Linked DNA regions of Homo sapiens. The protein of the gene in region 4 purifies or fractionates together with the protein of the main gene of each other region. This does not show direct contact. Each region holds a gene or a part of one and is shown on either strand. Other genes may lie near its edges. The genes, in order: SF3B1, DDX23, EAPP and PRPF8.

What was found.
Region 1: the proteins of PRPF8 (region 4) and SF3B1 purify together in Homo sapiens (affinity purification with mass spectrometry; 5 studies listed by BioGRID and IntAct, with this or other methods). This does not show direct contact.
Region 2: the proteins of PRPF8 (region 4) and DDX23 purify together in Homo sapiens (affinity purification with mass spectrometry; 7 studies listed by BioGRID and IntAct, with this or other methods). This does not show direct contact.
Region 3: the proteins of PRPF8 (region 4) and EAPP purify together in Homo sapiens (affinity purification with mass spectrometry; 5 studies listed by BioGRID and IntAct, with this or other methods). This does not show direct contact.

Annotation. Positions count from the first base shown.
Region 1 is NC_000002.12:197,404,022-197,411,045, reverse strand, and holds part of SF3B1 (splicing factor 3B subunit 1), read left to right. Parts: intron 1-1,038; coding exon 1,039-1,276; intron 1,277-2,464; coding exon 2,465-2,677; intron 2,678-2,926; coding exon 2,927-3,048; intron 3,049-5,573; coding exon 5,574-5,771; intron 5,772-5,868; coding exon 5,869-5,970; intron 5,971-6,191; exon of another isoform or gene 6,192-6,328; intron 6,329-7,024. UniProt on the Homo sapiens protein: Component of the 17S U2 SnRNP complex of the spliceosome, a large ribonucleoprotein complex that removes introns from transcribed pre-mRNAs.
Region 2 is NC_000012.12:48,835,154-48,842,177, reverse strand, and holds part of DDX23 (probable ATP-dependent RNA helicase DDX23), read left to right. Parts: intron 1-2,071; coding exon 2,072-2,165; intron 2,166-2,268; coding exon 2,269-2,334; intron 2,335-4,097; coding exon 4,098-4,236; intron 4,237-4,520; coding exon 4,521-4,654; intron 4,655-4,784; coding exon 4,785-4,897; intron 4,898-5,140; coding exon 5,141-5,284; intron 5,285-5,383; coding exon 5,384-5,609; intron 5,610-5,911; coding exon 5,912-6,057; intron 6,058-7,024. UniProt on the Homo sapiens protein: Involved in pre-mRNA splicing and its phosphorylated form (by SRPK2) is required for spliceosomal B complex formation.
Region 3 is NC_000014.9:34,536,686-34,543,873, reverse strand, and holds the start of EAPP (E2F-associated phosphoprotein), read left to right. Parts: upstream 1-4,172; 5' UTR 4,173-4,245; coding exon 4,246-4,319; intron 4,320-7,188. UniProt on the Homo sapiens protein: May play an important role in the fine-tuning of both major E2F1 activities, the regulation of the cell-cycle and the induction of apoptosis. Promotes S-phase entry, and inhibits p14(ARP) expression.
Region 4 is NC_000017.11:1,674,868-1,681,891, reverse strand, and holds part of PRPF8 (pre-mRNA-processing-splicing factor 8), read left to right. Parts: coding exon 1-72; intron 73-201; coding exon 202-414; intron 415-837; coding exon 838-963; intron 964-1,060; coding exon 1,061-1,166; intron 1,167-2,092; coding exon 2,093-2,283; intron 2,284-2,481; coding exon 2,482-2,601; intron 2,602-2,685; coding exon 2,686-2,875; intron 2,876-3,010; coding exon 3,011-3,130; intron 3,131-3,239; coding exon 3,240-3,374; intron 3,375-4,197; coding exon 4,198-4,327; intron 4,328-4,719; coding exon 4,720-4,916; intron 4,917-5,180; coding exon 5,181-5,387; intron 5,388-5,521; coding exon 5,522-5,685; intron 5,686-5,837; coding exon 5,838-5,964; intron 5,965-6,079; coding exon 6,080-6,272; intron 6,273-6,552; coding exon 6,553-6,740; intron 6,741-7,024. UniProt on the Homo sapiens protein: Plays a role in pre-mRNA splicing as core component of precatalytic, catalytic and postcatalytic spliceosomal complexes, both of the predominant U2-type spliceosome and the minor U12-type spliceosome.

The DNA.
Region 1 (7,024 bases), on a different chromosome or scaffold from region 4:
GGATCACTTGAGCTTGGTAGGTGGAGACTGCAGTGAGCCGTGATTGTGCCACTGCACTCAACCTGGGCGACAGAGTGAGACCCTGTGTCAAAAAACAAATGAAAATCCACCTCTCATCTTTTTTCATTAATCTTGCCAGCATCAGCTAGGGTAATATTATTTGGTACACATGTAACTGTACATACAAACTGATCTCAAGATTGAAATCATGTGACGGTATCTGGTTATAATTACATAGGTGGGGCCTGGTGCGGTGGCTCACGCCTGTAATCCCAGCACTTTGGGAGGCCAAGGTGGGTGGATCACGAGGTCAGGAGTTCGAGACCAGCCTGACCAACGTGGAGAAACCCTGTTTCTACTAAAAATACAAAAATTAGCCCGGCGTGGTGGCAGGCACCTGTAACCCCAGCTACTCAGGAGGCTGAGGCTGGAGAATCACTTGAACCCGGGAGGCAGAGGTTGCTGTGAGCCAAGATCATGCCCCGGCACTCCAGCCTGGGTGACAGAGCGAGACTCTGTCTCAAAAAAAAAAAAAAAAAAAAAATTACATAGGTGATCTAAAGCATGTTTATATTAATTAAACACACACAATTAAACAAAACATCAACAGGACTATTTTCTTAGAACACACGAATTCCTTCTCCCCTAAATATGTGTCTCTAAGCCCCACTTTGAGAAGTACTAATGTAATTAGAGCTGAAAGCCTTCGATTACTGATCTAGATAGAGAAACCTCAGTGATTTCCCCCAGTCACAGAGCTATTAATGGCATATCAAAGATTCATATCGATAATATTTTGTTTTTTTAAGCTGGGACTTTTGTCAGTGCTTCGGATTGAAACTTTACATTGTTTTTAATCATAAACATTTGCTAGAAAGTAGGTATCTTTTCCTATAAGTAGAGGTAGTGTCTTCTAACTTTTCATTAATTATAGTGCATAGAACTAAAACATTTTTCGTTTAAAGTTTTTTATTTTATGGAAATTTTCTAATTATTTCTGTGTGGGTGTGTGAAATAAAATTTTTTTGCTTTTTTAAGACCCCTGGGCATACTCCTTCCTTAAGATGGGATGAGACACCAGGTCGTGCAAAGGGAAGCGAGACTCCTGGAGCAACCCCAGGCTCAAAAATATGGGATCCTACACCTAGCCACACACCAGCGGGAGCTGCTACTCCTGGACGAGGTGATACACCAGGCCATGCGACACCAGGCCATGGAGGCGCAACTTCCAGTGCTCGTAAAAACAGATGGGATGAAACCCCCAAAACAGAGAGAGGTACTTCTAGTGGAGTATGGGTGTGTGGGTGAAATGTTGAGTGATATGTTTACAGACTGAAATGTGTTCTGTTTATTCCTGGGTGGACACGTATAAATAACCAGCTGCTTTTGGGGGACAGATTAAGAATAGAACAGTTCATATGCCTAATTTTTTCCACTTCTTGAAGTGGTTTAAGATTTAAGGAAGAACCTTAGGTAAAAGTAAAGTTAGTAGGCTGTAACCTTTGATTTTGTGTGTTTCTTTAGAGATAGGGTCTTGCTCACTGTAGCCTTGACATCCTAGGCTCAAGTGATCTTCCCACCTCAGCCTTCTTAGTAGCTGAGACTATAGGGGCATGCCACCATGCCTGGCTAATTTTTTTTTTTTGAGATGGAGTTTTGCTCTTGTTGTCCAGACTGGAATGCAATGGCGCGATCTCAGCTCACTGCAACCTCCACCTCCCGGATTCAGGCGATTCTCCTGCCTCAGCCTTCCTGAGTAGCTGGGATTACAGGCATGCGCCACCAAGCCCGGCTAATTTTGTATTTTTAGTAGAGACGGGGTTTCTCTATGCTGGTCAGGCGGGTCTCGAACTCCCGACCTCAGATGATCTGCCCCCCTCGGCCTTCTGAAATGCTGGGATTACAGGCATGAGCCACCGCTTCCGGCCCCTGGCTAATTTTTAAATTTTTTGTAGAGACAATGTCTTGCTTCATTGCCCAGCCTGGTGTTGAACTCCTGGTTTCAAGTGATCTGCCAAAGTGTTGGAATTACAGGCATGAACCACTGTGCCTGACTTACCCTTTGTTTTTTATTATGGAAAAATGTACATAACATCAAATTTACTTTTTTTGTTGTTGTTGTTGAGATGGAGTCTTGCTCTGTCACCCAAGCTAGAGTGCAGTGGTGCGCTCTCGGCTGACTGCAACCTCTGCCTCCCCAGTTCAAGTGATTCTTTTGCTTCAGCCTCCTGAGTAGCTGGGATTACAAGCGCCCACCACCACACCTGGCTACTTTTTGTATTTTTAGTAGAGACAGAGTTTCATCATGTTGATCAGGCTGGTCTCAAACAACTTTAAATGGGTCACCATTTTAGGAATATTCTATTTTAGAACTTGATAGTTTTGAGTATAACTGTTTGAGAATAAAGAATATTATTTTAACAGTGATTAAAATTGTGGTTTTACTCACTCTTTCTTTTTAAAGATACTCCTGGGCATGGAAGTGGATGGGCTGAGACTCCTCGAACAGATCGAGGTGGAGATTCTATTGGTGAAACACCGACTCCTGGAGCCAGTAAAAGAAAATCACGGTGGGATGAAACACCAGCTAGTCAGATGGGTGGAAGCACTCCAGTTCTGACCCCTGGAAAGACACCAATTGGCACACCAGCCATGAACATGGCTACCCCTACTCCAGGTAGAACTGTCTCATTGGACATAATTGTTTTTTTCTCCATAAATTATTTAATTTTTTCCTTTGTGGTATTCTGTGTACTATTAATGTCAACTTCTAGTAAGAATAAGGAGATATACAAATTTAAGTCTTGGTTTGCGTTTATAATATAAAAGCAAATAATAGGATTGATCTTAACTGTCTTTTATCTCAATGTATGTAATAATACAGTCTTGTACTATAGATTATATAAAAATTTGCTTTTCTTGGTAGGTCACATAATGAGTATGACTCCTGAACAGCTTCAGGCTTGGCGGTGGGAAAGAGAAATTGATGAGAGAAATCGCCCACTTTCTGATGAGGAATTAGATGCTATGTTCCCAGAAGGATATAAGGTAGTACATCAAATTTGAATGAGGTGGTATTTAGGATATACATTTATTTTAAATAGTGAAAAAAATTGATTAAGCTTGCATTGGCTTTGCCCAAATTTACTATTGTCATTCCATTCTCTTAGCTATTTCCAGGTATATTTCAGTTCCATATAGAGATGAAAAGAAATGAACAACATGAAACTTTTATTACTTTTTGAAAGACATCTCAAAGACTTGTGTATGGGTCTATCGGTTATACTTTGAGAACTGCTGGTGCTTCAGTTTTCTAGCAGTCCCAGGAATAAGCTCGTTGAGATTGTGGTTATTTTACTTGGTGCTTCACCAAGATTTTATATACTTAAGTTTATGGATTGTCAGTGGACACAAAGAATTTTTTTTTTTTTTTTTTTTTAAAAGATGGAGTCTCACTCTGTTGCCCAGGCTGAAGTGCAGTGGCGTGATTTCGGCTCATTGCAACCTCCGCCTCCCAGGTTTAAGCGATTCTCTTGCCTGAGTTTCCCAGGTACCTGGGATTACAGGTGTCCACCACCATGCCCGGCTCATCTTTGTATTTCTAGTAGAGACAGGGTTTCGCCATGCTGGCCAGGCTGATCTTGAACTCCTGACCTCAAGTGATCCGTCCCTCTCAGCCTCCCAAAGTGCTGGGATTACAGGCGTGAGTTACCGTGCCTGGCCTTTTTATCATATCAACCTAAAATTTATTTTGAACTATAAAATTTTCTAGGTACCTGGTACTCAGGGAGTATTTGTTAGTCTGAAGATAGTCTGTGGTCGTATAGCTGACATCATAACCAGGGGGAACCAGATAACTTTGTAAGTCATCTGATGGCCTTTACAGAGCTTTTTCTGTTAATGACTATTGATTTTTAACAGTTCATGAGTATGTTTTTTGTTGTTTTGTTTTGTTTTAGAGACAGGGTCTCACTGTGTTGCCCGTACTGGAGAGCAGTGGCGCTGACATAGCTCACTGCAGCCTTGGACTCCTGGGCTCAAGTGATCCTCCTGCCTCAGCCTCCTGAGTAGCTGGGGCTACAGGCATGCACTACCATACCTGGCTAATTTTTTTATTTTTTGTAGATACGGGAGTCTCACTGTGTTGCCAGGCTGGTCTCAAACTCCTAGGCTCAAAGTACCCACATTGGCCTCCCACACTGCTGGGGATTATAGGCATGAGCCACTGTGTCCAGCCTTGTTTTGTTTTTGATCCCCTGTTATTTGTGTTAGAGTATTTGTTTCAAGTTTGCATGAAGTTTTGCCTTAAAGCTTTTTGTAGCCTCCACATAATGCTGTGGGTATAGATAGAACTGTGGGTATAGATAGACAGAACTTACTGTTGACTGCCTGCATGTCTTTCTCAGTCGTAGTCATTGATTTCCTTAGTGTCACTAGGAGGAAAAGTCTCCCTTAGTGAATCCTACTAATAAGCAACGTCCTTACTAGTGAATATAAAAATATAGTAGACCTTTAAATCCTTAATGGCAAGTGATGCCTGTGGACTTGACATTGATTTCTCTAGGCCTCACATCTTTAGAGTATCCACTTTATCCAAAATGCTTAGTGGTCTGTGCTGGTGCAGACGTTAACTAGCAACAAAAAATATCTGTGCAAAGTACAGATAGCATCAATATAAATTTAACATAATTTAATCTTTAATAGACAAAACAATTTTAGGCTCACTGGAGAAGACGTGTATAGGTTTATTGACCTCTCCAAGAAGTTGTATTTTTTTTCTTTTACTATATATTAAATTATATAAAATAGAGATGGGGTCTTGCCATGTTGCCAAGGCTGGTCTCAAACTCCTGGGCTCAAGCGTTCCTCCCATCTCAGCCTCCCAAAGTGCTGTAATCCTGGCCTGTCCAGAAGTTGTTTTTTTTTTTTGAAGTCTGTTACCAGCTTTAAAAAAAAAAAAAAAAATTTCTTTGTGATTTTCAGCCTGCATTTTTTGAAATTTTACTCGTTTTGCAAAAGGTTTGATCAGGTGGTGTGTATTTTATAGGGCTTTGGCAAACATTTTGGTTTTAGTTTTTATGCATTTAACTAATTTTTGTAGAGTTTTACACTTAAAAGATTTTGTAGTGCAAGAATTTATGTGACATTTTAATACTAAAATATAATTTTTTATGTTTTATGCCCCATATGAGCTTATTTCCATTTTATATAAATCTTATGAAACATTATTTGCTCGACTACAGCATTTTTTGGAATTGCTGACTCAGATTTTATAATTTTCAAATTTTTAATAATTTGACATTTTGACCCACAACATGTTTGAATGTGATTAGTATTTTCTAAGCTCTTCTCTTGTGTTTCCTCAGTTCCCTACACCACGGATATAATCAGTTAGTGGATGAGAAGTATATATTTTAAGTTTCTAATTAAGATAGAAAAGCAAGATAGATGTTGTCTCCAAGCAAATAAAAACCTTATTAGCTAATAAACTAAAATATTTTAAGTGCAAATATTGTTCATTATGCTGTTTTTTAAGTTAAGAAAATCCTAAACTGTCTTATAACTTTTATTAGGTACTTCCTCCTCCAGCTGGTTATGTTCCTATTCGAACTCCAGCTCGAAAGCTGACAGCTACTCCAACACCTTTGGGTGGTATGACTGGTTTCCACATGCAAACTGAAGATCGAACTATGAAAAGTGTTAATGACCAGCCATCTGGAAATCTTCCATTTTTAAAACCTGATGATATTCAATACTTTGATAAACTATTGGTAAGTGATACTAGCAGAAATAAACTATTAATTGTGTTCCAGAATTATAAATCATAACATTTCAACTTCCCTTAACATTTTTTTCTTTTTACTATAGGTTGATGTTGATGAATCAACACTTAGTCCAGAAGAGCAAAAAGAGAGAAAAATAATGAAGTTGCTTTTAAAAATTAAGAATGGAACACCACCAATGAGAAAGGTAAGTCCCAGTTTGTTAAATTGTCATGTTTGTTGCTTATTTATTTAATTAAAAAAAATTTGTAGTTTTTGTAGAGACAGGGTTTTGCCATGTTGCCCAGGCTGGTCTCAAGTGATCCTCCTGCTTTGGCCTACCTCCCAAAGTGCTGGGATTACAGGTGTGAGGCTCTGCACCTGGCCATGTTTATATTTTTAAAAATGTTTTTAATTTTTTCACCAGGAAATGTAGACCACAAAATAGTAGTGAACTATTGGTATAGCCCGCTGTGGAGTGTGGTCTTTCCTTTACTCTCCCAAATAGCCCAAATTGGTAAAGGTTATTTAGAAAGCCTTCCCCATAAAAAATTAACTTTTGGTAGTGTTATATTTTTGTGTTTAGGAATTTATAATTACTGTCTTCATCTTTATCAAGGACATAGCATGAGGGGAAAAAATTTATGTAGTGTGAAGGATTTAACTTTTTTGCTTGTTTTTATTATTAATATTATATATATATTTTTGAGACAGGGTCTTGCTCTCTTGCCCAGGCTGGAGTGCAGTGGTGTAGTCTTGGCTCACTGCAACCTCCGCCTCTTGGGTTCAAGCAATTGTGCCTCAGCCTTCCAAGTAGCTGGGACTACAGGCGTGCACCACCACGCCCTGCTAATTTCTGTATTTTTAGTAGAAACGGGGTTTCACCATGTTGGCCAAGCTGGTCTTGAACTCCTGGCCTCAAATGATTAACCTGCCTCGGTCTCCCAAAGTGCTGGGATTACAGGTGTGAACCACCATGCCCAGCCGTTTGTTTTTATTATTATTTAAATACTCCTGGGCTCAAGAGATCCTCCTGCCTCAGTCTCCGAAAGTGTTGGGATTACAGGTGTGAGCCACCGTGCCCAGCTGGAGTTAGCACAAAATTCTTTGGTTAAAAAAGCTAATAAAAATGCTGAAAAATGAGATTCTCCTTTTTGTTCTTAAGGCCTTTAAAATATGCTTAAAGCTTGAAGATAATTAGTGAAATTATGTGAGGGATTATGTTAACACTATATGTGCCTTGGAAATGGAAGATACTTCAG
Region 2 (7,024 bases), on a different chromosome or scaffold from region 4:
CCCCACCTCCCTCCCGGACGGGGTGGCTGCCGGGCGGAGACGCTCCTCACTTCCCAGACGGGGTGGCTGCCAGGCGGAGGGGCTCCTCACTTCTCAGACGATGTGGCTGCCGGGCGGAGGGGCTCCTCACTTCTCAGACGGGGCGGTTGTCAGGCAGAGGGTCTCCTCACTTCTCAGACGGGGCGGCCGGGCAGAGACGCTCCTCACATCCCAGACGGGGCGGCAGGGCAGAGGCGCTCCCCACATCTCAGACGATGGGCGGCCTGGCAGAGACGCTCCTCACTTCCTAGATGGGATGGCGGCCGGGCAGAGGCTGCAATCTCGGCACTTTGGGGGGCCAAGGCAGGCAGCTGGGAGGTGGAGGTTGTAGCGAGCCAAGATCACGCCACTGCACTCCAGCCTGGGCACCATTGAGCACTGAGTGAACGCGACTCCGTGTGCCATCCCGGCACCTCGGGAGGCCGAGGCTGGCGGATCACTCGCGGTCAGGAGCTGGAGACCAGCCCGGCCAACACAGCGAAACCCCGTCTCCACCAAAAAAATACGAAAACCAGTCAGGCGTGGCGGCGCACGCCTGCAATCGCAGGCACTCGGCAGGCTGAGGCACGAGAATCAGGCAGGGAGGTTGCAGTGAGCCGAGATGGCAGCAGTACGGTCCAGCTTTGGCTCAGCATCAGAGGGAGACCATGGAAAGAGAGGGAGAGGGAGACCGTGGGGAGAGGGGAGAGGGGAGAGGGAGCCTGAAGCTTTTCTATCTATGGATTCTTCTCTGAATCTTTGGGGGTTTTTTTGAGATGGAGTTTTTGTTCTGTTGCCCAGGCTGGAGTGCAATGGCACGATCTCGGCTCACTGCAACCTCTGCCTCTTGGGTTCAGGCAATTTTCCTGCCTCAGCCTCCCAAGTAGCTGGGAATACAGGCATGCGCCACCATGCCTGGCTAATTTTTGTATTTTTAGTAGAGACAGGGTTTCTCCATGTTGGCCAGGCTGGTCTCGAACTCTTGACCTTAGGTGATCCGGCCACCTCGGCCTCTCAAAGTGCTGGGATTACAGGCGTGAGCCATTGTGCCTGGCCTGTATACAGAGTTCTTATCAGGCCCTGAAAGTATAGGTTAGAATTCAAGGCAGAGGACAGAATGCTCCTAACAGAAACTCAGTGGGGTTGTTTGAATTATCTTGTAGATTAAGCTTAGAGCAGGTATGGGGAAAGGATTGTTGGGATTGATAGGAATGAAAAATGATGAGGGAATATAGATAGCAGTATCTTCTTGGCTTGTGGTGGTGGCCATGTAGGCTAAATTCATTGTATATTAAAGAGTTAAGGAGGGCCAGGCGCTGTGGCTCACACCTGTAATCCTAGCACTTTGGGTGGCCGAGGTGGATGTATCACCTGAGGTCAAGAGTTCGAGACCAGCCTGGCCAACATGATGAAACCTCGTCTCTACTAAAAATATAAAAATTAGCCAGTGGTGGCAGTACTCGCCTGTAGTCCCAGCTACTCAGGAGGCTGAGGCAGGAAAATTTCTTGAACCCAGGAGGCGGAGGTTGCAGTGAGCTGAGATCACACCATTGCACTCCAGCCTGGGCGACAGAGTGAGACTGTGTCTCAAAAAAAAAAAAAAAAAAAATTTTTCTCTAAACAACCACACCTGGCTAATTTTTGTGTTTTTACTAGAGACAGGGTTTTGCCATGTTGGCCAGGCTGGTCTTGAACTCCTGACCTCAGGTAACCCACCTGTCTTAGCCTCCCAAAGTGCTGGGATTATAGGCATGAGACACCGCGCCTGGCCTAGGGGAAATATTTTTGACATCAGTAGTAAAGTCCCACTTCCCAAAAGAGATTAGTCTCAAAAGGAGATTTGGGTAGAAAGGGGCCAAGACAGGGCCATAATTAGGTTTCAGAGCTGGCAGAATGACCATGCCTGCTAAGAGAGTTTCAAGACATGATAGATGACCATGGGCCAGTCTTGTTGAGTCATGGGGAAACTTCCATTCTCTTTTCGGGGCTCAACTTGAACCTCATCCAGGCACTGAAGTAAGAGTGATGTGGACCTTGTTCCTTTTCCTCAAAGCTTATCTCCTGGTCGAGGAAAAGACTTTAAATCTCGGAAGGACAGAGACTCTAAGAAGGATGAAGAGGATGAACATGGTGATAAGAAGCCTAAGGTAAAGGAGAGGAAGGATATTTTTCATCTTCAACTCGTGCGTTGCTTTGTTGATCTTTAAAGGGAGAGAGCCTTTATAGACTAAAGTTCTGTTTTATCTTCAGGCCCAGCCATTATCCCTGGAGGAGCTTCTGGCCAAGAAAAAGGCTGAGGAAGAAGCTGAGGCTAAGGTAAGTACTTGAGGGTCTTCATTCATCGGCTCAGGCTGCCATAACACAATACCACAGACTGGGTGACTTCAACGACAGAAGTTAATTTTCTCACAGTTCTGGAGGCTGGAAGTCTGAGAGCGGAGTGTCAGCAGGGTTATTTCTTCTGAGGTCTCTCTCCTTGGCTTATAAGGCTGTCTTCTTCCTCAGCTCTTCACATGGTCCTCCCTCTGTACACATGTACCCCTTGTGTTGGATTAGGGCTCACCCTAAAAGGCCCTTTTTTTTTTTTTTTTTTTTTTTTTTGAGACAGAGTCTCACTCTGTCGCCCAGGATGGAGTACAGTGGCATGATATCGGCTCACTTCAACCTCCACCTCCCAGGCTGAAGCAATCCTCCCACCTCAGCCTCCCAAGTATCTGGGACTACAGGTGCGTGCCACAACGTCCAGCTAATTTTTGTATTTTTTGTAGAGTCCAGATTTCACCACGTTGTCCAGGCTGGTCTCGAACCCCTGGGCTCAAGTGATCTGCCCTCCTTGGCCTCACAAAGTGCTGGGATTACAGGCGTGAGCCACTGTGCCCAGCCTAATGGGCTCATTTTAACTTAATCACCTCTTTACATGTCCTGTCTCCACATATAGTCAAATTCTGAGGTACTAGGAGTTAGGGCTTCCACATAGGAATTTTGAGCTGGGTACAGTGGCTCACACCTGTAATCCCAATACTTTGGAAGGCCAAGATGGGAGGATCACTTGAGCCAGGGATTTTTAGACCAGCCTAGGCAACATGGTGAAAACCCATCTCTATAAAATTTTAAAAATTAGCCATCTGTGGTAGCATGCGCCTGTAGTCCCAGCTACTCAGGAGGCTGAGGCAAGGATATTGCTTGAGCCCAGGAGGTTGAAGCTGCAGTGAGCCATGATGACACCACTGTACTGCAGCTTGGGCAACAGAGCGAGAGTCTGTCTCAAAAAATATATATAACACATGCATTGTTTGTTTGTTTGTTTGAGATGGAGTCTCGCCCCGTTGCCCAGGCTGGAGTGCAGTGGCATGATCTCGGCTCACTGCAACCTCTGCCTCCCAGGTTCAAGCAATTCTCCTGCCTCAGCCTCCTGAGTAGCTGGGATTACAGGCACGTGCCACCATGCCTGGCTAATTTTTTGTATTTTTTTAGTAGAGATAGGGTTTCACTGTGCTGGCCAGGCTTGTCTTGAACTCCTGACCTCGTGATCCGCCCATCTCGGCCTCCCAAAGTGCTAGGATTACAGGCACAAGCCACCGCACTCGGCCACATTTTTTTTTTTTTTTTAAAGGTAAGGTCTTGCTCGTTTGCCCAGGCTAAAGTACAGTGGTGCAATCACAGCTCACTGTAACCTCAAACTCCTGGGCTCATATGATTTTCCTGCCTCAGCCTCCTGAGTAGCTGGGACTATATGCACATGCCATCATGTCTGGCTGAGTTTTTTTATTTTTGTAGAAACAAGGTCTGCTATGTTGCCCAGGCTGGTCTTGAACTCATGGCCTCAAGCGGTCCTCCCATCTAGGTCTCATAAAACACTGGGATTACAGGCATGTGCCACCACGTCCAGCCTGAAAAAACATATGAATTCTGTAGGGGACATAGTTCAGTCCATAACCGAGTCCAAGGCCTATTTGTGTTTTCCTCAACAGGCTTAATGCCTGAGCAAATACTTTTGGGTTCCCTGCCATCTCCCCATCAGTGATGTGATTGTACCCTGCTCCCAGATCCTTTGTTGACAGTTCCAATCTCTTTTGTAGCCCAAGTTCCTCTCTAAAGCAGAACGAGAGGCTGAAGCTCTAAAGCGACGGCAGCAGGAGGTGGAAGAGCGGCAGAGGATGCTTGAAGAAGAGAGGAAGAAAAGGAAACAGTTCCAAGACTTGGGCAGGAAGATGTTGGGTTTGTTATTCTACCCTGTGTAGCCCCTAGATGGAAGAGGAAAGAGTGGGATGAGATACAGTGTCTCTTAGGAGAGATAGAAACCTGTTCACTCTGGAGTTTGGAAAGGGGAAGGATGGTGGGAGTTTATGAGAAAACATTTTTCTGTTAGATCTCCATTTACCCCATATCATAAGTCTACCCCTTTTTTTCTTCATTTGGGGTTCCTCGTCTGGATTCCCTCCATTCCCTCTCCTCTTTTCTTCCATGAGCTCTTCTGCAGCTTTGCTTTCTTTGGTCTGCAGAAGATCCTCAGGAACGGGAACGTCGGGAACGCAGGGAGAGGATGGAACGGGAGACCAATGGAAATGAGGATGAGGAAGGGCGGCAGAAGATCCGGGAAGAGAAGGATAAGAGCAAGGAACTGCATGCCATTAAGGTGCAGGCCTTGGCTCCATCTTCACTTCTCTCCCACACAAAAATGAGGTTTAGTTATTTGGCCATTGTGATCTCTGCATGTGAGAATTGGGCCTCAAAGCTCATGTGCTTTGTGTTCTGTCCCTGGGTAGGAGCGTTACCTGGGTGGCATCAAAAAGCGGCGCCGAACGAGACATCTCAATGACCGGAAATTTGTTTTTGAGTGGGATGCATCTGAGGACACATCCATTGACTACAACCCCCTGTGAGTGGCTTCAGGCCTGAGTTCTAGGTCTTTTCCACTAGGCAGTCCTAGAGAGCTGATGACTACGGAGGTGGAGGAAGTAAGATAAGCTGGGATGGAAAATTGGTAGACTGGTAGTCAGCCAGCCCTCTGGTGGAAGAAAGACCCTGTCTGGGAAGAACTGTTTCATACTAGTAGTCTGCCCTTCCTTCCTACTGCCGTTAACAGCTCCTTCTTTTTTCTTTTCCTCTATCTCAATCCCAGGTACAAAGAACGGCACCAGGTGCAGTTGTTAGGGCGAGGCTTCATTGCAGGCATTGACCTCAAGCAGCAGAAGCGAGAGCAGTCACGTTTCTATGGAGACCTAATGGAGAAGAGGCGAACCCTGGAAGAAAAGGAGCAGGAGGAGTGAGTGATCAAGGCTAGGGTGGCTGGACAGAGCCCAGAGGCTCTACAGAAAGGAGTTGGAGGGCACTGATTCTACTTACTCCTCACACCCTGCTCCAGGGCAAGACTCCGCAAACTTCGTAAGAAGGAAGCCAAGCAGCGCTGGGATGATCGTCATTGGTCTCAGAAAAAGTTAGATGAGATGACGGACAGGGACTGGCGGATCTTCCGTGAGGACTACAGCATCACCACCAAAGGTGGCAAGATCCCCAATCCCATCCGATCCTGGAAAGACTCTTCTCTGCCCCCACACATCTTGGAGGTCATTGATAAGTGTGGCTACAAGGTAAGGAGGGATAGATTGGCCCAAGAGATCTGACATGTTCCTACACTAGTTTGGGAATAGAGAACTTTGTTCCTTGACTATTTGGAGCCATCGCTGCTAGTGGGCACCAATGTGACCTTTTCTGTCACTTTCTGGTAGAAGTGTTGGCTTTTAGTGATTAGGTTTCTTCTTGGGGTCCCTATTTCTGTGAACTGTACTTGGCATCCTTCCATTGTGCTAGCAGATGTGCTTACTACTATCAGTGGTTGCCCAGGTGGTATAACTCTCCCTGTACCTATTACTCTTTCTTGGGGTCACTGCAGGAACCAACACCTATACAGCGTCAGGCAATTCCCATTGGGCTACAGAATCGTGACATCATTGGTGTGGCTGAGACTGGCAGTGGCAAGACAGCAGCCTTCCTCATCCCTCTGCTGGTCTGGATCACCACACTTCCCAAAATTGACAGGTGAGGTCAGCTAGCACCAGCTGGAGTGGGTTTGTCTGGGTAGGAAAGGTGAAAGTGGCAAATGAATGTTTGATTTTTGTTTTACGTCTATAATCAGAAGCTTTCTTCTTTATTCTTTGTTGGATATTAGGGAATAATTGGATCATGATATCGAAGAAGTATATGTTGCTGGCAAAGACCTGGAGAACTTTGCTATCCTGGAGTCTCTGATTTATTTTATTTATTTTTTTGAGGCAGAGTCTCACTCTGTCACCCAGGCTGGAGTGCAGTGGCACGATCTCAGCTCACTACAACTTTTGCCTCCCAGGTTCAGGTGATTCTCCTGCTTCATCCTCCTGAGTAGCTGGGGATTACAGGCGTGTGCCACCACTTCTAGCTAATTTTTGGTTTTTTGTTTTGTTTTGTTTTTTGAGACGGAGTTTCGCTCTTGTTGCCCAGGCTGGAGTGCAATGGCGCAATCTCGGCTCACTGCAACCTCCTCCTCCCAGGTTCAAGTGATTCTCCTCCCTCAGCCTCCCAAGTAGCTGGGATTATAGGTGCCCGTCACCATGCCCGGCTAATTTTTTTGTATTTTTAGTAGAGACGGGGTCTCAATGTTGGTCAGGCTGGTCTCTAACTCCTGACCTCAAGTGATCTGCCTGCCTCAGCCTCCCAAAGTGTTGGAATTACAGGCGTGAGCCAGTGTGCCTGTCCTTAATTTTTACATTTTTAGTAGAGATGAGGTTTCACCATGTTGGCCAGGCTGGTCTCAAACTCCCGATCTCAACTGATCTGCCTGCCTTGGCCTCCCAAAGTGCTGGGATTACAGGCGTGAACCACTGCACCTGGCTGAATCTCTGATTTTTATGTATTTATTATTTATTTATTTATTTATTTTTTGAGATGGAGTCTCGCTCTATTGTCTAGGCTGGAGTGCAGTGGTGTGATCTTGGCTTACAGCAACCGTTGCCTCCCAGGCTCATATCCT
Region 3 (7,188 bases), on a different chromosome or scaffold from region 4:
CACCATATTGGCCAGGATGGTCTCCATCTCCTGACCTCGTGATTTGCCCTCCTCGGCCTCCCAAAGTGCTGGGATTACAGGTGTGAGCCACCGCACCCGGCCTCTCATGTAAAATAATTAAAAAAAAAAAAATTCTGGGCCGGGCGCGGTGGCTGACGCCTGTAATCCCAGCACTTTGGGAGGCCAAGGCGGGCGGATAACCTGAGGTCAGGAGCTCAAGACCAGCCTGGCCAACATGGTGAAACCCCGTCTCTACTAAAAAATACAAAAATTAGCTGGGCATGATGGCGGGTTCCTGTAATCCCAGCTACTCCGGAGGCTGAGGCGGGAGAAAAACTTGAACCCAGGAGGCGGAGGTTGTAATGAGCCGAGATCGCGACATTGCACTCCAGCCTGGACGACAGAGTGAGACTCCGTCACAAAAAACAAAAAACAAAACAAGAACCAAAAAAAACACATAAAAAACAAACAACAACAACAACAAACGAAACCTCTAATCACAGGTCAGTTTTACTGTTTCTCAGGTCCAGACTCGTTCTGTGCTGTTGGCAGGGTATCCTGCAGTGGCCACTCCTGTCTTACTAACAGACCCTGATTTTGTCCACAGGATCAACACACCCAGCTAAAACAGCTCAACTTCCTCATCACACAACACAGTTCTGGCCAGTTAGACACACGTCCCCGGAAAGGGCATCTCCAGGAGAATAAAAAGGCCAAGCCACTTTTTGAAGAAAGTCTTTGTCCCTACCCCCTTTTTCTACCTGGAAGTCAGACTCAGGCCTGGAGTGTAGCGGCCGCCTTGGTACCTGGAAGCAACAATCATGGCCGGGAGACCTTACACCTGGCATGGTAGAGCAGACGGAGGAGGGGCCGCCTGGTGAATAGCCTGGCCAACAGCCCCAAACTGCTACCCCTTAAATTCTGGGTAGGTGAGAAAAATAAGTCCTGTCTAAGCTGCTCATTGTTTTAGTTACCTGTAGCCAAAGTTAAATCCTGCCTAAAAGGGTTCTCCCCTCATTTTTATATTACATGCCATTTTTTATTTTATTTTATTTTATTTTATTTTATTTTATTTTATTTATTTAGAGACAGAGTTTCGCTCTTGTTGCCCAGCCTGGAATGCAATGGCGCGATCTTGGCTCACTACAGCCTCTGCCTCCCAGGTTCAAGTGATTCTCCTGCCTCAGCCTCCCGAGTAGCTGGGATTACACGCACCCGCCACCACGCCCAGCTAATTCTTTTTTTTTTTTTGAGCCGGAGTCTCGCTCTGTCGTCCAGGTTGGAGTGCAGTGGCGCAATCTCAGCTCACTGCAAGCTCCACCTCCCGGGTTCACGCCATCCTCCTGCCTCAGCCTCCCGAGTAGCTGGGACTACAGGTGCCCGCCACTGCGCCTGGCTAATTTTTTGTATTTTTAGTAGAGACGGGGTTTCACCGTGTTAGCCAGGACGGTCTTGATCTCCTGACCTCGTGATCCGCCCGCCTTGGCCTCCCAAGGTGCTGGGATCACAGGCGTGAGCCACCACGCCCAGCCAAAAAGTTGTTTTAAAATTTTTTCGAGAGATAGGATCTCGCTTAGTTGCCCAGGCTGGTCTTGAACTCCTGGGCTCAAGCAATCTTCCCACTTTGGACCCCCACAGTGCTGGGATTACAGGGGTAAGCCACCACACCCAACCTCAATCTTCTTGTGATCTGTTATGTTGACAACCAAGACAGCTACTTAGTGGTTGGTTGATGGGTGGACAGTGTATACAGCATGGACACACTGGACAGAGGCATGACTCAATGTTCCAGGTAGGACGGCAACAGATTTCATCACGCTACTCAGAACAGCACAACATTTAAGACATAAATTGTTTCTGGAGTTTTTCATTTAGTATTTTCAGATTTCAGGTGACTGCTGTAACTTGAAGCAAGAAAAGTGAAACTACAGAAAAGGGAGGACCACTGGACGGCTGCTTTCATTCTACGCCCACTTTTTAGAGTGCATTCCTACAATAAGCACCCTAATAATGTAAACCAGGGGCCAAGGGATGCACCTTCCACTCTACTTCCTTCCCCAGAAAAGACCACCTTGGTAAATACAGAATGGCAAACGGTTAAGTGAAACACTGTATAGCTTCTGGCCCTATACTTAGTATTTCTTAACATTTACACAGCATTTTCACATTTCCAAAGCAGAGTACCAACATTTATTAATCCTCACAACACCCCTGTGAGGTAGGTCAGTATGTCCTTTAGAGTCGAGAACTGAGGCAGAGGTCAAGCAAACCTGCCCTGGGCCACAGAGCAGCAGATGAAGGGCCTAGACCTGGATCCAGAAGCTAGGGCTCTCGGTCCAGCATTCATCCACTGGTGGACATCACATGGGCTTATTTTTACCAGCGAAGGTTACGTGAAGGACAAAACGCACTCAGCCAGCAACGGAAACTCAACAGTTCAAACAGCACTGGGGAACATGTCAGTTAAAGAGACGAAACGCTGACCAGCTCATGAATGAGGCAAGACAACATGCGGCTGAGGAAGTGTGGAATCATCACGACTGGGGATTAGACCAAGAACGGGCGCTCAGGAGGGTTCAGGAAAATGTAAACAAACTAGGAACCCATCCAAGGGGTGACAGGCCCAAATGCCTACGGTCTCCAAATGGTAGAAAAATTAGAAAAAGATAGTGGAAAAATCCAACCACGCAACCTTAACTTTAAACTAGGAATGACAATAATGTGTCTAATGTTCATTCACACTAGAAAGGCCGATAATGTTTGTAATATAACTACTGGCGATAGTATCCTATTTGTATGCCAACTTTCATCTCAAGTATTCTGCTTTTCTTTCCCCACAGACAAACAAGTGTTGTTCTTTACAGCAGACCTCTTTCCCTCTACATACCAATCTATCCACTCGCATAACTACTAAGTGGCTCAATGGCCTATGTCTCATGCTTAATTGGCTGAGCTAGGCGCGGAATCCGGGAAACCACAACAGACTGTACTCTGCTCCTGTATTTCAGGAATAACTGTCACTAACCTGCTTCTGTCCGATTCCACCTTCTATGAAGTACACACAGAGGAGCAGTTCATTCTTTTGTAAAGGGATTGGTGGACTTTGTTCGAGATGCCATTTCAAAAGAAATGAGAAAAAAGAAAAACTAAGACCTGCACTGTAAAGCATAATACAGGAGTAGATTTATTACAGCTACTCCACATTTTAGAGAGTGCCACAGTGTCTCGGTAGGAGGCAGGAACCCGAGTTCCTGGTTCAGAAACAGGGTTAGAAACAGTCTCCCGATGGAGCTCAAGTGGCTGTCATCTGCCTGTTCTCCTCAGGTATCGAGTGGGATCAGTTGAGGGCTGAGCAAAAGTGGGGACTGGGAAGATGACGAGAAAAGATAACTTTTCGTAGATTGTTGAGGCCGCAGTCAGACTGAGGAGTGAACAGTGTGAAGGAGAGGTTGAGAGCCTCATGGTGTGGAAGGCATAAGGGTTAGAGGCGAGGTTGGAGGGATGTGGGTGCTGGTGTCTGAGGACTTATTGGATTTCGGGCTGTGTGTCCCTCAGCGTCTAGATTCCTGCTTCGTAGGTGATGAGACGCTGCATGTAGCATGTTCACCTCAGAGACTGTCACTTATGAGGGTGCCCATCATTATTATTTTTGGTGACAAGGTAGCTGCTATTTTCCTGTAAGCAGAAGCTGCGGAAGAAAATGGTGGGATTGGCCGGGAGCGGTGGCTCACGCCTGTAATCCCAGCATTTTGGAAGGTCGAGGTGGGCGGATCACCTGAGGTCCGGAGTTCGAGACCAGCCTCAACATGGAGAAACCCCCGTCTCTACTAAAAATACAAAATTAGCCGGGCGTGGTGGTGTATGCCTGTAATCCCAGCTACTCGGGAGGCTGCGGTAGGAGAATTGCTTGAACCTGGGAGGCGGAGGTTGCGGTGAGCCGAGATCGCGCCATTGCACTCCAGCCTGGGCAACAAGAGCGAAACTCCGTCTCCAAAAAACAAAACAAAACAAAAATGGTGGGATTAAGACCCGCCCCCGTCCCGTCCCCGCCCCTTTTCGCTCCTGCTCCGCCCCTTCCCCGCCTTCTACCTGCCTCCCTCGGTGCTGTCGGTCTGCGCGGGCGCGCAAGGGGGACTGGGACGTTCAGGCGGAAGTGGCGTCAGGGGCGCTTTAGGGACTGGACTTGCAGTGTAAACAGAGACGCTGCAAATTGCTTGTGGACGGTGTAGGCCGCTGCAGGCCACCATGAACCGGCTTCCGGATGACTACGACCCCTACGCGGTTGAAGAGCCTAGCGACGAGGAGCCGGCTTTGAGCAGGTGGGCTCCCGCCCCACCCTGGCCCCCGAGGATTTGGGTCGAGGCCTGGCTTTGGTCGCCTCCATTCGTTGCGCCTGCCGAGCCTACGCAGACCCTAGCGGCTCGGGAGCCTGTCGTGCCTGTTACTTGTGCGAAGCCAAAGGGCTTTCCTGATGGGGTCGCGCAGTCCCGGGGGGAGGCGGTGCCGATGTCGCCTGTAGGAAGAGGGATATTCCGGAATCACGGGGGACCGCGTGTAAATCTTCAAAAGCAATGAGATCGAAACCTGTCTCTACACCTTAGTAGCAGAGTGACGGAAGGCAAGTCAGTTATCCTCGATTACTCACCTGTAAAATTGAACTATAATAACATAATTGTATAACCTATATAACATAGTATAACACACTATGTTTGTTGTGAGGCTCACAGGACTTAATGTGAAGTGTCCATCTTGAAGACTAAACTGCCATAAACAGAAATAAGGGAATATTGAACAGCCTTTTTTATTTTTATTTTTTGACAGGGACTGTTGTATGCTCGCTCTGAGCTACAGAGATAAATCATAAGGTCCTTGTCTTCCAGAGGCTTATAGTATAATAAGGGTAATAAGATAAAGTATATATTTCTTGGCAGAGCATTGTAGAGAATATTGACCTGAGATAGGCACAGAAGAAGGTTCGTGGGATTTCCAGAAGGGTGGGCTTTATTCTACCAGGGAAACTTGAAGCTGTTTTGCCGAGATATTTCCACACAAATTTAGTTATTTCTTAAGCTGTCAGCAGATCCTATTCTTAAACTTTAAAACATTCATTCTGCCTAAAGAAGCTTTCTGTAAAGCCATGCTTTCATTAACAACTTTGGCTGGGTGTGGTGGCCCATGCCTGTAATCCCAGGACTTTGGGAGTCTGAGGCGAGAGAATCTCTTAAGCCTGGTAGTAAAGGAACAGCCTGGGCAACATAGTGAGACCTCATTTCTTAAAAAAAAAAAAAATCAAAAGAACAATGTTTCCTCATATTGTCATGGGGAGACATTGGATGCATGGGAAATCAGACTGCTGTTAAGATTTCTTTTGTTGGGAGTGAGGATAGATACCAGGATTCCCTGTGAAAAAGAGTTTCAGTTAATGGGTCCTGTCTGTGAAAGGAGGTATGTATATATGTATGTCTCAATTATTTATTTATTTATTTATTTATTTTGAGACAGAGTCTCACTCTGTCAGCCAGGCTGGAGTGCACTGGTGCAATCTTGGCTCACTGTAGCCTCCACCTCCTGGGTTCCAGCAATTCTCCTGCCTCAGCCTCCTGGGTAGCTGGGATTACAGGCATGCGCTACCACACCTGGCTTATTTTTTGTATTTTTCGTAGAGATGGGTTTTCACCACGTTGGCCAGGCTGGTCTTGAACTCCTGACCTTAGGCAATCTGCCTGCGTCGGGCTCCCAAAGTGCTAGGATTACAGGCCTGAGCCACGGAGCCAGGACTGTTGTATCATTTTTTTAAGGAAGCTTTATAATTCTGTGACAGTTGCCACTGGTAAGGTAACTGTAAAGATAAATATTATAAAAACAAAACAATGTTATCAGACAGTATTGCCTGTTGTAGGCTCTGAGCCAAATGGTTATTATTTTAAAAAGGGAGATTAGTGTTAGAGAGGTGTCTGTCAGTATTTAATTTTACACTGTTTATAAACTAATACATTGTAGCCTGTTAACTGTTTCACGGTAGCTGACCGAAGACATGAGACTCCTGGGTCAAAGATAAGACTACACATAGCACAGCAAGCAGCATGAGCATCATGTTTGTGTGGCTTGCTCTTGCTTGTCAACCCTACAGGTATTACGCTGAGGGTCCTAGAAGAATGCTGCACATTCAGTGGGTTGGCATCGTGGCTAAAGACTACTTGAGCTTGGAGAATCCACCTCTTTCATAGAAGACAGTAAATACATCTGCTCTTTGTCCTGGAAGGAGACATTATCTCATTCCTCAAGGTTGTTGTTCGCTGCAAACACAATCCTGAGAAATGGCTGGAGTGAACAGTGGTCAGAACCTTGCATTCTTGGCATACTTAACTTGCATATCTAGGGTCCATGATGTATGACTGCCTTTCTCAGCAGTGCTGAAAACTGAGACTTTGGTTGAGATAATGACAAGGATTGAAGAAAATTTGTAGAAAAAATAGCTCTCACTTTGTGATTCAGTTTTTAAAAATTAAACATTTTATTTTGAAGTTTTCGTAGATTCACATTCAGTTATAAGAAATAATACAGGTCTGGTGCAGTGGCTCACATCTGTAATCCCAGCACTTTGGAAGGCCAAGGCAGGAGAATCACTTGAGCTCAAGAGTTCAAGACCAGCCTGAGCAACATGATGAAATCATGTCTTTACTGAAAATACAAAAAATTAGCTGGTATGGTGGTGCATATCTGTGGTCCCAGCTACTCAGGAGGGTGAGGCGGTTGGTTGGCTTGAGCCTGGGAGGCGGAAGTTTCAGTGAGCCAAGATGGCACCATTGCACTCCAGCCTGGGCAACACAGGGAGACCCCCATCTCAAAAAATAAAAAATAATAAAAAAAAAAGAAATAATACAGAGAGATCCTGTGTACTCTTTCCCCAGTTTCCTCCAGTGTTAACATACTACAAAACTATAGTGCAGTATCACAACCAGGATATCTATCTATCTATATATCTATCTATGTATTTTTTGAGACGGATTCTGAATCCTGTAATCCCAGCTACTTGGGAGACTGAGGCAGGAGAATCGCTTGAGCCCAGGAGGTGGAGGTTGCGGTGAGCAGAAATCATGCCACTGTACTACAGCCTGGGCGACAAGAGCGAGACTCTGTTTCAAAAGAAACAAACAAACAAACAAACAAAAAAACCATCCTGGGCAA
Region 4 (7,024 bases):
GCTGGACCCTGAGGAGGACGCCCCTGTGTTGGACTGGTTCTATGACCACCAGCCGTTGAGGGACAGCAGGAAGTGAGTGATAGATGGAGATACTACACCTGGGAGGAGTTCTGGAAATGCAGAAGGAGTCCTGGGAGATCAGTAGGTGGTATGGGTTTGTCTAGCTGCTTACTTGAGGTGGGCCTTTCATTTTTTACCTAGGTATGTAAATGGCTCCACTTACCAGCGCTGGCAGTTCACACTACCTATGATGTCGACTCTCTACCGCCTGGCTAATCAGCTCCTGACAGACTTGGTGGATGACAACTACTTCTACCTGTTTGATTTGAAGGCCTTCTTTACGTCCAAGGCACTCAATATGGCCATTCCTGGAGGCCCCAAATTTGAACCTCTTGTTCGAGACATCAACCTACAGTGAGTTGGAGAGATTAGGGATTTTAGACATTTTGAGTTGAATGAAACGTAATCTTGATCCTTAAAGTCCTGATATAACTTCCAAATTAGTCTGTTTACACCAGGTGCAGTGGCTCACGCTGTAATCTCAGCACTTTGGGAAGCTGAGGCAGGAGGATTGCTTGAGCCCAGAAGTTTGAGACCAATCTGGGCAAAATGGCAAAACCCTATCTTTACCAAAAAATGTAGCTGGGCGTGGTGACACTCACAGCTTCGTGTAGTCTCAGTTACTTGGGAAGCTGAGCTGTGGGAGGATTGTTTGAGCCCAGGAGGTCACGGCTGCAGTGAACGATGATCATGCCATTGCATTCCAGCTTGGGTGATAAGAGTGAGACCCTGTCTCAAAAAAAAAAAAGTCTGCTTATTCTTGATGTTGTACCCTAGGGATGAAGACTGGAATGAATTCAATGATATTAACAAGATTATCATCCGGCAGCCTATCCGCACTGAGTACAAGATTGCTTTTCCTTACTTGTACAACAATCTTCCACACCATGTCCACCTCACCTGGTAAGAGACCTGGAACACAACATTTGGAAAGGAGAAGGCTGCTGTTTAGGTTGGGCCAGGGCGGGAAAACTTTGGCTGACTCTTCCTTTCATTTTAGGTACCATACTCCCAATGTTGTATTCATCAAAACTGAGGATCCTGACTTGCCAGCTTTCTACTTTGACCCTTTGATCAACCCAATCTCCCATAGGCACTCAGTCAAGGTGAGGAAGGGAAGGGATGCTTTCCCTCAGCTCTTCTAGGAGAAATGCGTGAGGTTGGCTGATGTTACTAAACGCTCAGGTGGAGGGAGATGTGTTTTCCGTCTTGCTAAGTGTTCCCCTTGAGCTATAAGCGAATATGAGAATTCAGCATTTGCTTTAAAACATGTCATTGGTATAATCCTGTTTTCTGTGATTATCCTTTTGGACTTTACGGTTCTTTTCTTGGGTGCTCTAGATAATCTGTCCCGGTCTGTCTCTATTGTGTTTGTTTGTTTTAGCCTTTATATTGAGATGTAGTTAACATACCATACAAGTTATCCATTTAAAGTGTGTAATTTGATGGTTTTTAGCTTATTCTCAGAGTTGTCCCAACTGTCACGACATGCAATTTGAGAATATTTTTATTACTTGAGAAAGAAACCCTTAGCAGTTACTCGCCATTTCTCCCCAACTTCCTTACGCAACCACTAATCTACTTTCTGTCTATAGATTTGGCTATTCTACACATTTCATATGATAGAATGAAATAGAATCGTACACTATGTAGTCTTCAGTGACTGGCTTCTTAAGCTTACCATAATGTTTTTGATGCTCATCTGTGTTCCGTTGTGTCCAAGCCCAGTGTTTGGAGCTTGGGTGGGAGATGATTGCAATGTTGACCTCCTGTGATGTTGGGGCTCCATTGGGAGGCTTTCTGGTGGTCAGCCAGTTGAGGTGTGAGAAGTGACGCTTGCTTTCCTGGTGGCCCTGTCTTGTTCTTTGCTGTCTTGGTTTCCTTTGTGCTGGCACTTCAGGGCTGCTTTTGTCAGACAGCCCAGTTTCCATAGCAGATACAGGCTTTGTGCTTGGCCCCAGAGAATTTCCCTCATCTTAAGTCTGTGCCTAGTTCAGCAGGAGCTAAACCCTTAGAGGGATTCCTTTTTCAGAGCCAGGAACCATTGCCGGATGATGATGAGGAATTTGAGCTCCCGGAGTTTGTGGAGCCCTTCCTGAAGGACACACCCCTCTATACAGACAATACAGCCAATGGCATTGCCCTGCTCTGGGCCCCGCGGCCCTTCAACCTACGCTCTGGTCGCACCCGTCGGGCCCTGGACATACCCCTTGTCAAGAACTGGTAAGGTTTTTCCCTGTGGCAGGGGGAATGATAGTGGATGTGTAGGAGAAAAGACTCCAACTAGGTGGGCATGTAGCCTTTTTTTTAAATTCTTTTTTTTTTTTTCCCATAAAAATGGTAGACAACCCAAGGCTTGCAGCCTTTAGCAGAGTGTCTGGAAGAAGAGATGGCCAAACTCTGGTGGGCTTATTTTTCCAGGTATCGGGAGCATTGTCCTGCCGGGCAGCCTGTGAAAGTGAGGGTCTCCTACCAGAAGCTGCTTAAGTACTATGTGCTGAATGCCCTGAAGCATCGGCCCCCTAAGGCTCAAAAGAAGAGGTAAGGTGCCCCAGGGGCCCTGCGCAGACTTCTGTTCCAGAGATATCAGTAGGCTGACTCTTACTCTCCATGTTCCCACCTCAGGTATTTGTTCCGCTCCTTCAAAGCCACCAAATTCTTTCAGTCCACAAAGCTGGACTGGGTGGAGGTTGGGCTCCAGGTTTGCCGCCAGGGCTACAACATGCTCAACCTTCTCATTCACCGCAAAAACCTCAACTACCTGCACCTGGACTACAACTTCAACCTCAAGCCTGTGAAAACGCTCACCACCAAGGTGCCTGCATTGGACCCTAGGGGCCTCCTGGGCTTCAAGGACGGACAGTTGTTTTCCTCTGGTTACTGATGAAGGCATACATCAGTTGGGTCCATTGCTCATTCACGTTCTGTCTGTTTTTTGCATCTTCTCCAGGAAAGAAAGAAATCTCGTTTTGGGAATGCTTTCCACCTGTGTCGGGAAGTTCTGCGTTTGACTAAGCTGGTGGTGGATAGTCACGTGCAGTATCGGCTGGGCAATGTGGATGCCTTCCAGGTAAGGTTAGGTATTCCCAACCCCTGCCTGGGTGAGGACGCTGGAGGAAGCCTGTGCTGACCGTGGAGCTGGTTTAAGCTCCAGGTCTGATGGGGCAATTGTATTGCAGCTGGCAGATGGATTGCAGTATATATTTGCCCATGTTGGGCAGTTGACGGGCATGTATCGATACAAATACAAGCTGATGCGACAGATTCGCATGTGCAAGGACCTGAAGCATCTCATCTATTATCGTTTCAACACGGTGAGACCTTGACTTTACTGACTTTCTTTTTTTTGAGACAGAGTCTTACTCTTGTCTCTTGGGCTGGTGTGCAATGGCACGATCTTGGCTCACTGCAACCTCCGCCTCCTGAGTTCAAGCAATTCTCCTGCCTCAGCCTCCCGAGTAGCTGGGATTACAGGTGCCCGCCACCACGCCTGGCAATTTTTTTTTTGTTTTGTTTTGAAACTGAGTCTTTCTCTGTTGCCCCAGCTGGAGTACAATGGCACGATCTTGGCTCACCACAGCCTCCGCCTCCCGGGTTGAAGTGATTCTCCTGCTTCAGCCTCCCAAGTAGCTGGGACTACAGGCGCGCACCACCATGCCTGGCTAGTTTTTGAAATTTTAGTAGAGATGGGGTTTCACTGTATTGGCCAGGCTGGTCTTGAACTCCTGACCTCAGGTGATCCACACTCCTCGGCCTCCCAAAGTACTGGGATTACCAGCGTGAGTCACCGTGCCCAGCCTCACTGGACTTAACTTTCTCAGATCTTTTTTCATGTATACATTTAGACAGGGCTCTTTCCAGGGACCTATTTGGAGAGCAGCTATGACTGTGTCCTTACTGCTCCTTTAAATTCACATGGGCGATCTTAGTTCCTGGTTTTTGCCTTAAGGTTTCTCATTTACCCTTTTGTTTTAGATGTTGAGGTCCCAGAGTTTTTTTTTCTTTTTACCCCTCTACTGCCATACCTACATTCCTCTGTATGTATATTATACATATATGCCCCACCTCTGCCCAGGTTTCTATTGTTGTTTAAATGCATTGCTAACTTGTATTCTTAACTTCTGCTTGGGATCGTAGGGCCCTGTAGGGAAGGGTCCTGGCTGTGGCTTCTGGGCTGCCGGTTGGCGAGTCTGGCTCTTTTTCATGCGTGGCATTACCCCTTTATTAGAGCGATGGCTTGGCAACCTCCTGGCCCGGCAGTTTGAAGGTGAGTGGTTTTCTCTGTGTCCAACTTCTCCTGTTATTGCTTCAAAAGTACCTGCCCCTGTTTGAGTCTGTTCCCTGCTCTTGTATGAGCACTCTTCCTACTGGATTGCCTTTAGGTCCAGTTCTGAAATGAGTCTGACCTAGTATTCTATTTCTTGGGCTTCCTTCTGGGGCCTTGAGAGGCAGTCATGCATTTGCAGGAGTGGAAATTCCTCAGAAGCATAGTTGTGAATGTTTAAGGTAGCTCGTCTTTTTGCATATGCTGGGCACAGGGACGCTTTGTTAATACCTAATTTTATTAATAACCATAATGAGTGAGGAGCATGAAGGTAGAGACCCTTATTGAAAGCAAGGAATCTTCCTTGTAATCCCCTTGGGACACTCTACTTCCAGGTCGACACTCAAAGGGGGTGGCAAAGACAGTAACAAAGCAGCGAGTGGAGTCACATTTTGACCTTGAGCTGCGGGCAGCTGTGATGCATGATATTCTGGACATGATGCCTGAGGGGATCAAGCAGAACAAGGCCCGGACAATCCTGCAGCACCTCAGTGAAGCCTGGCGCTGCTGGAAAGCCAACATTCCCTGGAAGGTGGGTGTCTCTTTATTTCCTTGGAGGCGTAAACATCCGTCTTTAGGGTAGGATTACCACTTCGGGAATCATTAGGGGGCTATCTGGCTCCAATCTCTTTTCTTTTCCCTTTTAGACAGGGAAAAGAAGCACCATGTTGCTTAGGCTGGCCTCAAGCTCCTGAGCTCAAGCGATCCTCCTTAGCCTCCTGAGTAGCCGGGACTACAGATGTGTGCCACAGTGCCTGGCTGGATCCTGGCTTGATTGTGCTTTTTGGACTTTTAGGTCCCTGGGCTGCCGACGCCCATAGAGAATATGATCCTTCGATACGTGAAGGCCAAGGCTGACTGGTGGACCAACACTGCCCACTACAACCGAGAACGGATCCGCCGAGGGGCCACTGTGGACAAGACTGTTTGTAAAAAGAATCTGGGCCGCCTCACCCGGCTCTATCTGAAGGCAGAACAGGAGCGGCAGCACAACTACCTGAAGGTTGGGCAGAGTAGGCTGGGCTGGGTGTGAGTGGTGGGGGAGTGGGCAAGAGGGAGGACTGTAGAGTTGTGACTGAACCTTGTTCTGGCAGGATCGGGCTGTAGCGGGAGGCTAATTTCATGTCCACCTTACAGGACGGGCCTTACATCACAGCGGAGGAAGCAGTGGCAGTATATACCACCACAGTGCATTGGTTGGAAAGCCGCAGGTTTTCACCCATCCCATTCCCCCCACTCTCCTATAAGCATGACACCAAGTTGCTCATCTTGGCATTGGAGCGGCTCAAGGAAGCTTATAGGTGAGTAGTAGGGTAGATAGGTTCCTGCTGGGAAGGTGACAGCAGGGAATGGCGTCATCCTCAGAGTCCAAAGAAAGAAGGTGTAGCCCCAGTCTTTCCTGGTTTTACTTCCTCCTAGTTTTCCCATTCACCCTTCCCATTGCTTTTGTCAGTGTGAAGTCTCGGTTGAACCAGTCTCAGAGGGAGGAGCTAGGTCTGATCGAGCAGGCCTACGATAACCCCCACGAGGCGCTGTCCCGCATCAAGCGTCACCTCCTCACACAGAGAGCCTTCAAAGAGGTGAGTGAGGCCTCCCAAGTTTTCTTTTTGGTTCTACCAAAGGTAGCAGTTGCCTTTGGTTCTACCAAAGGTAGCAGTTGGTGGATTGGTGTGAACCAGCCTCCTTGTCCCACAGGTGGGCATTGAGTTCATGGATCTGTATAGCCACCTCGTTCCAGTATATGATGTTGAGCCCCTGGAGAAGATAACTGATGCTTACCTGGACCAGTACCTGTGGTATGAAGCCGACAAGCGCCGCCTGTTCCCACCCTGGATTAAGCCTGCAGACACAGAACCACCTCCGCTGCTTGTTTACAAGTGGTGTCAAGGTAGAACTTTCATGAGATCGCCCTGTGAGGAACGGGGCAGGAATTTAGTTCTACGTCAAAAATCTCATCTGGGTAGCATGATTGGTTTACTCTCTTGATGCGTGGTAGTAAAGGGAAGTAGTGTTCGTGTTAAACTGAGGAAAAGCCCATAGTCAAAGCAATCCAAATGAATACGTGGAATCATAGTGGGATTGGTTATGGAAGGTAATGATAGTTCCTGTGGGGCTAGTCTTGCAAGAGGATTTCTAACCTGCTGGAGACCTGCCTTGCTACTCCTCAGGCATCAATAACCTGCAGGACGTGTGGGAGACGAGTGAAGGCGAGTGCAATGTCATGCTGGAATCCCGCTTTGAGAAGATGTATGAGAAGATCGACTTGACTCTGCTCAACAGGCTGCTGCGCCTCATCGTGGACCACAACATAGCCGACTACATGACAGCCAAGAACAACGTCGTCATCAACTATAAGGTGCGTCTCAGGCGCAGTAGCATGGAATTGTGTGTGGAGTGCTTGTCTGGCCCACTGACTCAGAATTTGCTGAGGAGGAGGCTGGGTGCGGTGGCTCATGCCTGTAATCCCAGCACTTTGGGAGGCTGAGGCGGGCAGATCACGAGGTCAGGAGTTCGAGACCAGTCTGGCCAACATGGTGAAACCCCGTCTCTACTTAAAAAAATACAAAAATTAGTTGGGTGTGGTGGTGGGCGCCTGTAATCCCAGCTACTTGGGAGGCTGAGGCAGGAGAATCACTTGAA